Linked DNA regions of Homo sapiens: region 1 is linked to region 2. The links come from fine-mapping of genetic effects on gene expression. Tissue or cell type: spleen. Region 2 holds a variant in brackets; the other region holds the start of a gene. All regions are shown on one strand. Distances are between the middles of the regions.

Region 1 (8,099 bases), 40 kb before region 2:
CTCCCGAGACCCCTCACTGGGGACACAGGGGGGCCCTGCAGCCAGGGTGTCAGTGTGGGGACAGCCCAGCAGACCCCAAGCCACCCACTGAGGTTGCTTCTCAGGGGAGCACCACTGGTGGGCTGTCAGCTCCTGCCTGGGCCCCGGCCTCTTGCCCCTGTCCCACCTCCCACCTGCACGGCCTCCAGCATTGCCCAAATTCACTGCCTTCACTCCCAAGTCCACAGAGGTGTCTCATCCAGGCGGGTGAACACTCGTGTGTTGGGAGGCTGGTGAAGCCTGGCATTGGGGGGCACCACCCATCTCCCTTCTTTGTCTCACTGCCTTGAAACACCCCACATCTATCACCTCTGCCCCCGAGGCTCCCCAGGTTCACCCCATGCCAGCCTCAGCCCAACAAGGCCTGTGCTTCTGACCAGCACCGCTGGGGTTCTCAGGGCATCTACCCTTTCCGCTGTAGCCCACTGTCTCTAAACATATTTCACACGTTGCTGGGGGCAGTGTGTGTGACTCACTGCTTCCCAGAGCCAGCCCAGAGCTGTTTAGTAGACATGAGGTGAGTGAATGAATGAATGAATGAATGAGTGCTGGGAGCTGTCTCAGTTAGCTCCAATCTGCCATAAGGAAGCACTGCAGGCTGGGCATGTAAACAGCAGGTGCTTATTTCTTGCAGTTCTGGAGGCTGGAAGTCCAATATCAAGGTGCTGCTGATTCCAGTCTTGGTGAGGGCTCTCTTCCTGGCTTACAGATGGCTGCCTTCTCTCTGTGTCTTCATACAGCTGTCCTTCAGTGCATGTAAGGAGAGAGAGAGAGAAGAGGGAGCTCCTAAATGTCTCTTGGTATAAGGGCACTAATCCTATGGGACCAGGGACCTTCATGTCCTCATCTGTCCCTAATTACCTCCCAGAGATCCACTTCCTAACACTATCTCATTGCGGGGCAGGGCTTCAACCTATGAATTTTGCAGGAACACGATTCTGTCCATAGCGAACACTGACACTGAACCCGCCTCCTAAAGCCTTCTCTCACCATATTCCTCATGCTGCTCAAAGATCCTCTGCAACCTTGTGCCCCTCCCAAGGGTCCCTGCACCTGTCCCAGAGAGAGGGCAGCCTGGCAATGGGCCTGGGCCCTGACGCTTGAGCATCGGGGTCTGGCCTGAAAGGGGATGGGCGTTCACTTCTAGGTTCCTGAGAGAGGCAACACTGCACCTTTAAAGGTGTCAGGAGCTCACTGCCCCAGCTGGTCATGAAACAGTCTCTTCATCAAGGGCTAAATAAAGCACGCTGACCACCAGGAATGGGGCAGGAAGCTTCTGCCCTGCAGCCTGCCTTGTCTGCACAGGGAGTGTGGGGACCATTAGGGGGAGGGTCCGATGTGCATTTTTCTGCCAGCGGGACCTTCCCCTGCCCCCAGTCCTGCCCAGGCCCGGGGGGTCACTCTGAAGGCATCTGGCTCTTACCCCAGGCATCTCCTGCCTCTGCCCCACTCCTCCACCCCCACGGGGTGCCGAGTCTCAGCCCAGGCTGGGGTGGCCCAGGCAGGACAGCAGGCTTGGTGGTGCCCGGCCCCACATACTAGTGGGTGGCACAGCGTGGATGTGGATAGAGACGCCTCCCCTACAGTCTGTCCCTGGTATCTGTGACGCAGGTGTGGGGTCCCTTTAGACTCCCCTGGGAGACAGCTGTGTCTATGAAGGGGCAGCCATCCCTGGGTCCCCTCTGCCCTCACTGAGGGCAGAGCCTAGGCTCCTTGGGGGGGGAAGCAGGGTGCCCCTCAGTGCCCACTGGAGTTGGCCAGCGGAGGCAGCAGCCCACGGCACTGAGAGGGAAGGCCCGGGCAGCCATGCCCCAGAAACTCCCTTGGTTGGGAGCAGAGCAGTGCCCAGAGCCCAGAACCCAGTTTGAGTATGGTCTTGGCTCTCAAGGGACAGGCCAGGGTGCCTCCAGGGGAAGGGGGCTGCCCAGGCAGTAGGGGTTCAAAGGTCCCCTGGGGCCCACCCAGCTGACCCAGGCCTAGGGTAATCCAGAAGGGGAGCTGCCCTCCTCCTCCCTGGGCTCAGGAGAGGCTGCAAAGGCAGCTCCTGGGACGTGGATTTCAGAATCAGGGCAAAGGACAGACATGAGCCAGATTCAGGTGCCCGCGTGGCCCCCACAGGTCTCTTCAAGCTCCAGGCCCCACTCGCTGTGACGCAGGTGGGAAGCTCTTGAGTGCCTCCCCGGTGGGAGGGGCCGCGCTCACAGACAGCACAGGGGCCCCCAGGCTCCAGCCTCAGAGCCCGGCTGCTCACCTCTGATGGACAGAAAAGGGTCCCTGTCTCAGGAAGGTAGAGGCTGCCACCTCCTGGCCCGAGGACACAGCTTTCCAGAGGAGGGGCCTGCTTCTAAGTCCAAGTCCCATCCCAGCCGGATAGCCAGGGGCAACTGCCCAGGTAAACTGAGACAGCAGCAGCAGGCAAGCCAGTGCAGAGCTGGGTGATCCACAGGTTCATGAGCGGTGGCAGGTGGAACAAGGGCACCATGGGCGGAGGGTTGGGCAGCTGCAGGTGGCATCATTGAGCCAGGGGCCTCCTGGTGGGTAAGGACATTGTAGAGTGAGCGGGCGCACCTGGGACCCAGGAATTCACAGGAAGGAGAGAGGAAAAAGGAAGTCCCTGGCGGGTAAACACATATGCATGCACACACATCCACGTCTGCACACGCATCCACGCCTGCACACGCATCCATGCCTGCACATGCATCCACGCCCAATCTCTTCCCTGGAAATAAAGCCAGGGGCCCTTAGGCCAGCTTGCAGTGGGGCCCAGCCCTTAGGACAGGCTCCTTGGTGGGGTAGGGGTGGGGGCAGCTGTCCTCCTGGGCCAGCTCCTTGGGGCTGAACCCGCTGCTCGAGGGGTCTTCCAGGCTCCCAGCGGCCGGCACCACCTCTAGAGCAGGTGGGCAGGGGTGTGTGGGGTGGGCAGGGGTTTGTGAGGGTGGGCAGGGGTGTGTGGGGTGGGCAGGGGTGTGTGGGGTGGGCAGGGGCATGTGGGGTGGGCAGGGGTGTGTGAGGTTGGGCAGGGGCGTGTGGGGTGGGCAGGGGTGTGTGAGGGTGGGCAGGGGTGTGTGGGGTGGGCAGGGGTGTGTAAGGTTGGGTAGGGGTGTGTGGGGTGGGCAGGGATGTGTGGGGTGGGCAGCGGTGTGCGGGGTGGGCAGGGGTGTGCGGGGTGGGCAGGAGGGTGTGGGGTGGGCAGCAGCCTGCACAGTGGCTTCCCCTCAACAAGCCACTTCCTCTTGCAGAGGGAATGTTGGGGTGGGAGGGTGTGGCTCAGCAAAGGGCGTGGGGGTTCCACCGGCTCCCTGCCCCCGCTGGTGGGGCACAGTGAGGGGGGCTGTGGTCAGACCTGGTCTCTGGAGGGCCAGCCGGGGGTTCCCGTCCACCTGTCAGGGGGTTCGACGCCACTTTGAGATGACAAGTGAGGCCACCTGGGCACAGCGCTGGTGTGAGAAGGAGGCCATCAGGACAGGTCAAGAACCCAGGCCCGCCCTGCTCCGAAATTCTTCAGACCTGATGAAGAGGTGTCCCAGAAGCGGGTGGTGCTCCAGGCCCGCCTCACCAGCTCCAGGGAGGTCAAGGTTGGAGAGAGACAATTCTAGGGGCGAACCAGACATAGCCAAGAGCAGCTCATCTTCCCTGGAGAGGACGGGCTGCCCACTTGCACAGCCCGGGGGCCTCCTGCCCCTAGACCTGGTACCTTCACTCTTGTTGCCACCCCTACATTCATACCTGCGCCCCAGTCTGAGCCACACCTAGGCCCCCAGCTGAAGTGACACTGTGGGTGCCAGGCATCTGAGGTCTCCACAAGCCCCCACAGACTCAGGGTGGGAATTCCTGGGGGCCAGAGCTGCAGAGGGTGCTGCCTGGGGGTGCTGGGCTGGACGGGGGTCCTGGTTGTCCCTCCTGGTTCTCCTGGTTCTCCCTCCGCAGAGGGAGGGAGGCGGTGGCCTCAGCAGTTCCTCCAGCAGCGTTCCTGAGCGGGCGGCAGCTGGGCCCTCTTCCCACAGCCACGCTGGGGTTGCCATGCCTGCAGGTCTTGGGGCCCCCTCCCCCTTGATGAGGTCCTGACCAAATGCAGGAGGAGCAATTCCAGCACCGAGGGGCGAGCAGAGCCGCCTGTTAGCACTCCTGGGAGGGCCCGGAGTGGTCCCTGAATGATGGATTCACCTGGAACATTTTCACCCTCTTCAGGCCCACCCTGCCCCAGAGGCCCACGGAAACCCTGCCTGTACTGGGGCCGCAGCGCTGCCCCCACCCATACGTAATTACACGGCTCGGTGTAATTGCAAATTCGAGGTTTACAAAGCCTCCCCCTGGAGGCCCCACGTGAGTGTGAGCGAGGCCCCAGCCCACCCCTGTGGCCCCAAGAAGGCTCTGCGACAAAATATCCATGAGTGCCGCCCACGAAGGCATTAAAACCAACGACCTTCTCAAAACTTAAGCTGTCACAGGACATTTCAAAGGGTGTTTCCTAAGAACACCTCAATAATGATGTTCCAAGGAGACCCCATCCAAATTCCTCCAAGGATTACGCCCCCAAGGCCCAGTCCACACTTGCTCACTCCCAGGACGGGGAGCTCACCTCCTCCTCCCCGGGCGCCGTCTCCTCCACATCCCACACCAGGTCCTGCCCATGACTTTCCCCCTCTCAGCGCCGTCCTCAGTGGCCACACCAAGAACGAGGCCATGTCTTCCTGGGAAGGGCCTCAGATGTCAGCAAATGCCCTGGTGTCTTGGGCTGGGCTGGGGGCACCAGGGTGAGGTGGTGGGGGGAGCCAACCTCACTGCCCCTCCCCTTCCTGCCTGCCCTTCTTCCGGGGCACCCAGCAGCTCGGTCCTAGGGCGATGTTGACAGACAGACAGAGGGGCGGATGCAGCCTACCTCCTGGGCAGTGAGCTGCGGTCTGAGGCCCCTGCCCAGCTGGAAACCACAGGGAGGGGAAGGGAGGGGAGGAGAGGAGAGGAGAGGAACCGTCATGGGGCCTTGGAGTCGAGTCAGGGTTGCCAAATGCCAGATGCTGGTCACCTGCTTCTTTATCTTGGTAACAGGCAGGTCGGGCAGGAGTGGGTGGTGGGTGGGGGTGAGCAGGGGTGAGGGGTGGCAGGGCCTCAGCACAGGGATTATCCCTCCCCTGACACACACACCAGCCCTACTGTCCCTGTCCTGCCCTTGCAGACATGTGTCCTGCCCTTGCAGACAGCCGCAGGCAGGCAGGGACCACCATGAGCAACCCCGTCTCTCCTCCTGAGGGGCAGCACAGAGCCTGGAGGAGGCCTGAGTGGGGCTGAGGCCTGGGGCGAGCTGGGGTGGAGGGGCACTGGCTGCCGGGCTCCAGGGATCTTCTCCCCTTCCTGCCCCGGAGGGTGCTGGCACAGGGGTGGGGCTCACTCCCACTCCGTAGACACAATGATCAGAGGTCCTGGGTGTCTGGGGAAGCTGGGCTGTGCGTGTATGCGTCTACCATGTGGGGGTGCCTGTGAGTGTGCTGGGGCGTCTGCAGTGAAGGCCTCCTGAGACCACTCCACGGAAACACCGGGAATCCCTGCAGCTGAGCCTGTCTCTCACGGGACCGGGAAGCTGGAGAGAGCCCCAACCCTGCCCGCTGGGGCCGAGCTCCCTGCTCCTGCAGCAGTCCCATGCCCCACACTCTGAGTCTGCCCTATCCACAGCTGCTGGGCCTCTCTGTGGCCACCATGGTGACTCTTACCTACTTCGGGGCCCACTTTGCTGTCATCCGCCGAGCGTCCCTGGAGAAGAACCCGTACCAGGCTGTGCACCAATGGGGTAAGTGAGGTCCAGGCCTGGCTGCATCGGGAGGGGCCTCGGGTGCAAGGGTGGCTGGCACGAGCCCAGCTGGACGCCTCACAGCCAGAATGGTGCCAGGCCCTAGGCAGGAGCCAGAGGTGGTCAGGGGCAGGGAGGGGCTGCCCTGGAGTCCTAGCTCCCCTGGGCAGGGCCTCGGGTCTGGGTGACAGCCAGTGTTCCTGCCTGGTTCTCGTGCCCCACAGGAGCGTGGGCACAGTGTGGGTATATGTCGGGCAGGGTCAGGAAGTGGCTCTGTGCGGTCAGGACCTGGCTCTGTGCAGTCAGGGCTCAGTCCCAGGCAGGCCTGGGACTGGCCTGGGGCTGGGCACAGCAGGTCCATGAGGGCTCCACATGGCTGATGTTCCACTCAGGACCTGGGATGTGGGTGGGGAGGGGGTGGGGGCTGCTCTAGCCAGACGCCTCCCTGCAGGGACTCAGCAGCGACTTATCCAACATCCAGAGAGCGGGAGCGAGGGCCAGAGCCTGCTGGGGCCACTCAGGGGTAAGGCTGAGGAAGGCCCCTTTAATGAGGGGATGTCAGAGCCAGATCTGCAGGGGACTCTCAGGCAGGAGCTCAGGGGGCCCAGGAAGGCTGCAGCCCGGTGGGCAGATGTAGGGAAACTGAGGCCCAGGAGGTCAGGGATACTGCCTTAGAACCCAATGCTTTTCCCCAAGTCCTAGGACCAGGGCCTCCCTGGAGGAGGACGCCTGGGGCCCAGGTCCAGGTCCGGACTGATAAGATTACAGCTCCAGTCCGGCCACTTGTCACTAGGACATGGCAGGAGGATGCCTGGGGCCCAGGTCCAGGTCCAGACTGATAAGATTACAGCTCCAGTCCGGCCACTTGTCACTAGGGCATGGCAGGGAGCATGTGGCTTCCAAGATAGCCCCACAGGCATGGAGGGCAGGGAGGAAAAGAGGGAAGGAGGGGCAGTCCCCCAGGCTGAACGAGTCCCACCTCCCTCCTCCTTCCCTCAGGGCCGTCTGATGGAGAGACAGGCCCATTCAGAGCCCCCCAGGAGTCCCTCACGGCCCCTGACTCCCAAGTTAGATTTCACACCCAGGCTGTGTGCACTCAGGACCTGTCCTGGGCACCCCTAACCCTCCTCCTCTCTCCTCCCAACCAGCCTTCTCTGCGGGGTTGAGCCTGGTGGGCCTCCTGACTCTGGGAGCCGTGCTGAGCGCTGCAGCCACCGTGAGGGAGGCCCAGGGCCTCATGGCAGGGGTGAGTTCATTGTGTTCCCAGATGCCCAGGCCCCCAGAAAAGAATTAGAAAGGAGTGAAGAGCTGGCAGGGCTGTGTGCCACCCCCACACCTGAGTGACCAGGCAGAACCAGAGGCCCCAGGGATGCTGGCCAGCCGAGACCCCCACGTCAACCCCACACCTGAGTATCTAGGCAGAAACAGAGGCCCCAGGGATGCTAGCCAGCCGAGACCCCCTACCTGGGTAGCCAAGGCCCCTCCACCAGGCCCTACCTCACCCTGTCATCTACACGCCCAACAAGGGTTCCTATAGGAGCTCTGAAAGAGAGAGACGGCCCTCCTGACCCTGGGAGCTGTTTCCAAAGTCCCTGGGAGGGTCTGGTTCTATTGCCCAGCAAGCTCTGGGAGGGCACTGGGAGCATCCCATTTCCTGTTCGGAGGAGGCCGGGCCAGGCTCAGGAAACGCCCCTTGAGCTCTCCAGCCTGGGCTCTCCGGAGCTGCACACTCTCCTTCCCAGCTGCCGGAGGTGTCTCCCCAGCCCCGAGGTCCCATAGGCCCCTCCACCCCACCCCATAGCAGTGGCCTCTTGTCACCCTCATTCCTACTCCTCCCCATGGGCTTCTGTCTTGGTCCCTGCCACTCGATGGTCATCGCAGACCCCACCTGGCGGCAGCCTCCCCACGCCTGTCCTGCCCCTGCTAGGCCCACAGCCCTCTTCTCTCACCCCAGCTGGGGCAGCTCCTCCCTGGCGCCCCGGGCTCCCACCTGTCCCTCTAGCCTCCCGTCTCCCCTTTCCAGCCATGAGGAGCTTGTGCTGGGGGCTTTGCTTCCCTGTTTAGCCTGTGAAGCTGGACCACTCTGGGGGTCCCTGAGGGCAGAGCCTCCTGGGTCCCCAGGGCTGGCAGGGTTTTCAGCTCAGCCTTCAAGTTCAGCAAATGCTTGTTTAATGACCCTGGTTTATAAATGTCTCCAAGAATAGGAATAGAGTCACCTCCTGGAGCTGCTGCCGGGCCAACCAGCCCTGGGTGGGCCCATGGTGGGCAGAGGAGGACC
Region 2 (8,099 bases):
AGAGACAAAGAGGGAGTCAAAGAGAGAGAAAGAGAGAGACAGAGAGTCAGAGAGAGAGAAAGAGAGAGACAGAGACAAAGAGGGAGTTAGAGAGAGAAAAAGAGAGACAGAGAGTAAGAGAGAGAGAGTCAGAGAGAGAGAAAGAGAAGTAGTAAAGAGAAAACAGTGTACCCTATTCCTTTAAAAGCCAGGGTAAATTTAAAACCTATAATTGATCATTGAAGATCTTCTCTGTGACCCTAGAACACTCCAATACTGCCTGTAAAGAAGCAAGACGAGTCACACCAGTGACTGCAAGACCCTAGAGCTATTAACCAGTTAGTCCAAACTACCCACCCTGTTGTTACAGTAATAGATGTAAAAGATGCCTTCTGGGCTTGTCCATTTGCAGAGGACAGCCAGGACCTATATGCCTTTGAGTGAGAAGACCCTCACTCCGGTGGAAAATGGTAATACCAATAGACGGTCTTACCCCAAGGGTTTACGGAGTCTCCAAATTTATTTGGTCAAATATTCAAATAAGTCATTTAATTAGCAAAGGTAAACAGAAAATTGAGCTTGAATGGATTGAAGGCATCACATTCTTGCCTCTGCTGGAGACTAAATAAGAGCTTAGAAAATTTTGGGATTAGTTGTATGGATACCGTCGTCTATGGGTAGACTCATGCCCTAAAAACAAAACTCTTACACAAAAAGCTCACACGAGACAGACCAAACCCCCTCATGTGGCAATTACCAGAAATCCAACAGGTGGGAAGGTTAAAACATCTATTAGTAACTGCCCCTGTCCTAGCTTTACTCTCCTTAAGCAGCCATTCCACCTTGTTGGTGGTGTAAACAACGGCGTAGCCCAAAAACACTGAGGCCACTGACAACCCATAGCCTTCCTAATCAAAAATCCTTAACCCAGTAACCCGCGGATGGTCCAAATGCATTCAATCTGTAGCAGCAACTTCTTTGCTGACAGAAGAAAGTAGAAAAATAACTTTGAGAAGAAACCTCATTGTGAGCACACCTCACCAGGTCAGAACTATCCTAAGTCAAAAAAAAAAAAAAAAAAAGAAAAGCAAAAAGGTAGCTTACTAACTCAAAAAATTTAAAATATGAAGCGATTCTGTCAGAAAAAGATGATTTAACATTAACCACTGATCATTCCCTTAACCCAGCAGGTTTGCTAACAGGGGATCTAACTCTTAATGAATTACCATACAAAGGTCCAACCAGACCTAGAAGGAACTCCCTTCAAGACAGGACAATAGATGGTTCCTCCCAGGTGAATGAGGGAAAAAGCCACAATGGGTATTCATTAAGTAATGGGGAAATAGGAGTAGAGTTAGGAAAATTGCCTAGGAGTTGGGGAGTTGTTTGCACTGAGCCAAGCCTTAAGATACTGACAGAATCAGGAAGGAGTCATTGTGAAAAGTGAAGTAGAGTTTCCTCCTCAAAAGACTTTCCTCCCCATCTAATCAGGAATAAATAGTAACTTCTCTTAGTAGCAAAATGTATTCAAAGACCAGCGCTAACATTCTTAAATATCTGCTAGACGTAATAAAGAAATCAATGTACTTTATGTCCTTAGCTCCCACAATTTAGTCTAAATGTTTGCTCTGGCATGCTTATACTGGTCCAGGCAAGCATTAGGTCCTATCCTGTTCCTCTTCCTTGTTTGTGTCTCACATGTCCGTGTGAAAAGACCACCAAACAGGCTTTGTGTGAGCAACAAGGCTGTGTATTTCACCTGGGTGCAGGCGGGCTGAGTCCGAAAAGAGAGTCAGCAAAGGGTGGTGGATTATCATTAGTTCCTACAGGTTTTGGGGTAGGCGGTTGGGTTAGGAGCAATGTTTTGCCAGCAGGGGGTGGATCTCGCAGAGTACATTCTCAAGGGTGGGGAGAATTACAACGAACCTTCTTAAGGGTTGGGGAGATTACAGAGTACATTGATCAGTTAGGGTGGGGCAGAAACAGATCACAATGGTGGAATGTCATCAGTTAAGGCTATTTTCACTTCTTTTGTGGATCTTTGGTTGCTTCGGGCCATCTGGATGTATACGTGCAGGTCACAGGGGATATGATGGTTTAGCTTGGGCCCAGAGGCCTGACAGTTTGAAGGTGTTTTTACCTTTCTCAGCATTCCACGAGTTACTTCTTCCTTTGTTCTCCTCTGCCTTTGCCTCTTTTAAAAAGTTCTAAGTTGCTAGCCAGTCGGGACAAATGCAGAATGTCAGGCCTCTGAGCCCAAGCTAAGCCATCGCATCCCCTGTGACTTGCACGTATATACGCCCAGATGGCCTGAAGTAACTGAAGAATCACAAAAGAAGTGAATATGCCCTGCCCCACCTTACCTGATGACATTCCACCACAAAAGAAGTGTAAATGGCCGGTCCTTGCCTTAAGTGATGACATTACCTTGTGAAATCCCTTCTCCTGGCTCATCCTGGCTCAAAAATCTCCCCCACTGAGCACCTTGCGACCCCCCACTCTGCTCGCCAGAGAACAACTCCACTTTGACTGTAATTTTCCTTTATCTACCCAAATCCTATAAAACGGCCCCACCCTTATCTCCCTTCGCTGACTGTCTTTTCGGACTCAGCCCGCCTGCACCCAGGTGAAATAAACAGCCGCGTTGCTCACACAAAGCCTGTTTGGTGGTCTCTTCACACGGACGCGCGTGAAACAGAATGTGAGGTCCCGTTCCAGCCAATGGAAACCAGACACAGCAGTAGGGTGGACGCGTCAGGTTATAAATGACCCTGTCTCCTTTGCTCAGTGTACTCTCGTGGCAAAACTGCTGCCGAGTGTACCCTTTCTACAGAAAGTATAAAAATGACCTTGCGTAGGAAATTAAATTTATGTTCAAGTGCCATTTCTTTATGGCACCGGGGAGCAAGCATTTCAAACATCATTTGTACCAATTCTAAGTTAAATTTGGACTAAACAAGGTCTTATTAATAGCAAAGGATAATTGAAATCCCAAACTTACAAGGTTTTCAACAAAAGTAAAGTTTGCTAAAAGTTAACAGTATAACATGTATTATCCTAACTTCTAATGTTGTGACCTTAGGCTGTCTAGTCCACAGACATAAAGGAAGTTCGCTTTGGAAAAGAATGGTTATCATCTTTGAGAGAAAAAAAATTGTTTCGAAGGTTTAAGCAAGTTTTGAAATATTCATTGTAAAGGAAACATATTGGCTAAAGTTAAAGGGGTATCTTCCAGTTTTTCTGTGAACTGGACATTAAAATAAAAGCCCAGTGGGTTTTTCTTAAAGCGCTAACCTGCTCTTTAACAAAAATTACGAAAGGTTAAAAATTATAAAAGTTTAAAAAAAGAGTCTGGAAATCTCACCTTGTGGTCAGACCTTAAAATTGGATACATATGTCTACAAGGTTTTATTAAAATGAAGTTTAACACGAATAACACACTAATGTAAAGGTGAAATTTAGCTGATCTGGTATAAAATCACACAGGAAGCACTGTCAAATATAAAATGGTGTTTGGCTTTCTTTGGTCTAAAAACTAATAAAAATAGGTACTAAAGGAAATTTCTCAGCAAGAAGGCACTAAGGACTATAAAATCCACTGCTGATGTCCCCACCTTTAAAACAAAAGATCAATTTTTAGAAATGATATACTTGGTTTATCCTCCACCCTTAAAACAAAAGGTCTTCTAGCACAGGCCCTGCCCTGAGAGTTTCCAGTACATCAGCACCAGCCTGGGGATCCCGTTCTCATCAAAGGGTGGAAAGAAGGGAAACTGGAGCCAGCCTGGGAAGGACCCTGCCTTGTGCTGCTGACTACCGAGATTGCTATTCGTACAACGGAAAGGGGGTGGACACGTCCCACCAGAGTCAAGCAAGCACCATTATCAACAGAATCATGGGCCATTGTTTCTGGATCAAGCCCTACCAAATTAAAGCTAAGGAAAGCTGAGTCTATCTCTTTCCTTTCCTTTCCTAACCCAGTGCCTATATCCATGACTATTCCTACCACTAGCAACTCTAACCCCACTTTAGAGAGTTTCTGTGGTTTGGGAGCAGAGGTCACTGGAAGGGATCCTATAGGCTTCAAGGTGCGCTTTGTTCTCCCTCCTCCACCTCCTACGACTGCCCCTTTCCCAAACCTACAACATCAAACTATGCCTCGCCTCATGCCAAATGACACAAGCAAGTTCTTAGAAGTAGAAATAGGAGACCCAAGGCAAACCCTAGCCATTGAAAGAGGGTATAAAGACATAAATGCCGGTTAAAACGGATTAAATATCCCGTTCGCACTTTAAGCAAAAGTGACCATTAAGCTTGTGGGCGCGGTAGGCCAGAGGCTCAGGATGCCTCCTTTCCACTGGGACGGTCCTCAAATCAAGCGGACATGGAGTGCGTGGTAGCTCTTTTCGAAGATTCCACCACCTGGAATAACGAATTGTGCCAAGCTCTTTCTCTGCTATTTCCTGAAGTTCAGTGCCCTGTGGGTCAGCCCCCGAGGGCCATCCAGCCTTCATCTTCCAAAACCAATTTTACCTCGTGTCTCCAACAACGAGGGG[A/G]AAAAACTTGGCATTCCTTGGAGACTTAAAAGGTTGCAGTAAAGTCAGGCACCTCCAAAAGCTGACCCATCGGTCTGCCCTTATTCATCCCTGAGCGGATGTATGGTGGTATTATGGAGGACCTTTACTGGACACTCTGCCAAATAATGAGAGCAGTACTGATGCTGTAGTTCAGTTGGCTATCCCTTTTACTCTGGCATTTCATCAACCAGAAAAAGAAAAAAAAATGTAGCCTCAATTCTTACCTCTTTAACAACGCTAATAAGTATACTCTTTCTTCGTAGGTGTTATGTCGTACCATACATCCAGGAGTTCATCAAAACAACTAAGCCAAGACATGCTAAGAAAGTTTGAAGAGGAAAACTATACAGTAAAAGAGGAGGGAATTGTAGGAAGTAAAAAGTTTCTGCTTCAAAGTTCCCCTTCTTGTTAAAGAATAAATCATAAGTCTTAGAAATAATAGATTCTTTTAAAGACTAATTTTCTTCAAGCCTCCTTGCTTTGTGCTAATAGCTCTTTGTTAAGCCCTATCCTATGTAACTGTTGGACATGCTCACAGACACATTCCAGCTCACAGCCTATGCCCCTTCCTTAATTGGAAATGTTATTGCTTCCTGAAACCTTTTGTAAGCAACTTCTTTGTTCTTCCTTGCACTTACCTATTTAGGAAAGTTTCAAATCGGGTATCAGTTTAAGATAGTGAGGTCCCACTCCAGCCAATGGATGCAGGACACAGCAGTAAGGACAACCCAAATGCGTAAGGGATAAATACATCTGCTTTTCCTTTGTTCAGGTGTGCTCTCACCATTGTTCCATCTGCAGTTGAGCACCCTTTCTGCAGAAAGTAAAGATGGCCTTGCTGAGAGATCTTTTGTCTCTGTGCTGACTCTTCTTCGCAGCACCGATTATCTATTTCTAACAATTTTGGTATTTCTAACAGGCCCACACACACTGTGTGGGCCAAGCTGCTTCACTCAGTCCACTGATCAAATGCTCATCTCATCCTCACAGACACACCCAGGATACTGCTTGACCAAATATCTGGACAACCCATGGCCCAGTCAAGTCGACAGACCAAATGAACTGTCACAGACAGCTTCTGTCCTTGGAACGGGGTGGGATTCCACGGACTCTCTCCCTTCACAGTGGAGATGCTCAGTCAGCAAGCTGCCAGAAGTTCAGAGCTGGGGAAGATATAAAGAGGACTGGGCATGGAAGCTGCAGGAACTAGTCAGGAACTGGGAGTACCTAGGAGTCAGCTCCTGAGTGTGCAGGATCATGGTGAAATAGAAAGTTAGAGAAGGAAGAGTGTGTCAATATCAGAGCATTGTCTTATAGCACAGGACTTAACCCTCTCCTAAGGTTCCAGGGAGACAGTGCCAAATCATCACTTGAGTGGTGCTTAGAAGCTTCAGGGCAAAAGAGCCAACCCTAAGTACATTTGTCTACTGGGGCTGCCATCACAAAGCACCGCAGACAGGGTGGCTTATACAACAGACTCATTGTCTCACAATCCTGGCGGCTGGAGTCCAAGATCAAGGTTTTGCAAGGCTAGCTCCTCCTGAGGCCTCTCTTGGCTTGTAGATGACCGGGGCCTTCTCTCTGTGTCCTCACAGGGTCTTCCCTCAGTGCGTGTCCGTGTCCTCACCTCCTCTTGTAAGACTCCAGTCCTATGAGATTAGGACCCACTGTCATGAACTCATTTACTGTTGATTACCTTTGTTTTATGTTTTTTGTTTTTTTGAGACAGGGTCAGTCTCTGTCACCCAGGCTGGAGTGCAGTGGTGCAATCATGGCTCACTGCAGCCTCAAACTCCTGGGCTCAAGGAATCCTCCCACCTCAATCTCCCAAGTAGCTGGGACTACAGATGCATACCACTGTGCCTGGGTGTATTAGTCTGTTATTGCACAGCTATAAAGAAATACCTGAGAGTGGGTAACTTATAAAGAAAGGAGGTTTAATTGGCTCACGGTTCATAGCTGCTTCTGGGGAGGCCTCAGGAAAGTTTCAGTCATGGTGGAAGGTGAAGGGGAAGCAGACACGTCTTACACGGCCAGACAGTTCCTCCTACACTGGCTGACACTCTCTCCTGCCACCTTGTGAAGAAGGTGCCTGCTTCCTTTTCTGCCATGACTGTAAGTTTCCTGAGGCCTCCCCAGCCATGTGGGACTGTGAGTCAATTAAACCTCCTTTGTTTATAAATTGCCCAGTCTCCGGTAGTATCTTTATAACAGTGTGAGGATGAGCTAATACACACAGGAAGCAGCAATGCCATCAAAGAGCCAGGGGCCTTGACTGGCAGAACTAGTGAGACCATCACCAAAACATGGCATTCCTTGGGCAAGGCAGGTGCGCAGCCAGCAAGGTATTGCTTAATCTACATGATCAAAAGACATCAGGATGGTTGTTCAGGAGGCTGAGAACAGCCATCCTATTATGGCTGAGTTGTGTCCCCTCAAAATTTATATACTGAAGTCTTAACCCCCCAGGACCTCAGTGTGTAAGTATTTGGAGAAAGGGCCTTTAAAGATGTAGTTAAATTAAAATGAAGACATTAGGGTGGGCCCTAATCCAATCTGACTGGTGTCCTTGTAAGAAGAGGAGATGAGGACACATGCAGAGGCATGACCACATGAGGACACAGGGAGAAGGTGGCCATCTGCAAATCAAGGAGTGAGGCCTCGGGAGGAACCAGCACTACCAACACCTTGATCTCGGACTTCCAGTCTCCAGAACCATGAGATGATGAAAGTCTGTGTTTAAGCTGCCCAGTCTGTGATATTGTTTTGCAACCCTAATAGATGAATACATACCCCAATGAAAAAGCATGATCTCTTGCCCAGTTTCTGCACCTGAGACAGTTTTCAAACCCAAACCCCACTGATTGAAGGAGGGATTAGGTCCCAGGAGGACGGACCCTGCAGTACCATAGCAGGCTCCCCCAGTCCTTCCCCACCCCACCACTAAAGGTGTATTTCAGTAACTGTGCACTAGGAAAAGGGCAATGCCCAGGGCTGGGGGACTCCGGGACCAAGTTGACACTGAGAGCTGGAGTCAAGGTACCATCATGGGCCCACTAGAGTAGGGCGTATGGAGGCCAGCAAAGTGCAATCCTGGTCCACCTCTAGCTCACACTGAGTCATCCCTTTGCATTCCCAGAATGCTGCATATTCCCCCAGACCCTAAAAGTACACTCAGACAATCTTGGTAGTTGGCAGAATCCTCACGTAGGCTCATTGTCCTGTAGGGTAAAAACTATCATAGTGTTACCAAGTAGAAACTTCTGAAACTGCCCACCACCTTAGCCAAGGCAATACACCAAAAAGAAAATCTCATTGGTGGGGAATGGCAGAGATGTGGGCCCCTTTGGAAGACTTGAAGGTTGCAGGTGAGGCGATTCCCATCATCTCCCCCATTTTCCAGAGAATGCTAACAGACTACTGTCAACTTGTGATGGGAAATTTTATGCGTCCACTTCACTGGGCCATGGTGCCCAGATGTTTGGTTAAACATTATTCTGGGTGTGTCTGCAAGGTGTTTCTGGATATGCTTAGCATTTGAAT

What was found. PIP is the estimated chance that this variant, and not a neighbour inherited with it, causes the effect.
Region 1: C11orf21 starts here. The variant in region 2 is fine-mapped to the expression of C11orf21 in spleen (GTEx, PIP 0.91).

Annotation. Positions count from the first base shown.
Region 1 is chr11:2,297,138-2,305,236 of GRCh38, forward strand. C11orf21 (chromosome 11 open reading frame 21) reads right to left here and starts at 4,781. Exons shown (of 4, transcript NM_001329958.2): 1 at 4,619-4,781; 2 at 3,383-3,476; 3 at 2,291-2,570; 4 at 1-784. The coding sequence starts at 4,671. The coding sequence ends at 2,319. TSPAN32 (tetraspanin 32) reads left to right here and starts at 4,876. Exons shown (of 10, transcript NM_139022.3): 1 at 4,876-5,078; 2 at 5,707-5,821; 3 at 6,970-7,067. The coding sequence starts at 5,013. RefSeq lists a silencer at 2,122-2,416.
Region 2 is chr11:2,337,100-2,345,198 of GRCh38, forward strand. All of the region lies in intron 1 of CD81-AS1 (CD81 antisense RNA 1), which reads right to left. It overlaps LOC124902611 (a long non-coding RNA gene), which reads left to right. Exons shown (of 2, transcript XR_007062551.1): 2 at 4,820-4,995. Among named protein-coding and RNA genes, the nearest start is that of CD81, 36 kb to the right of the region's middle. RefSeq lists enhancers at 1,356-2,273, 2,274-3,189. The variant A/G (reference allele first, on the strand shown) is at 4,536.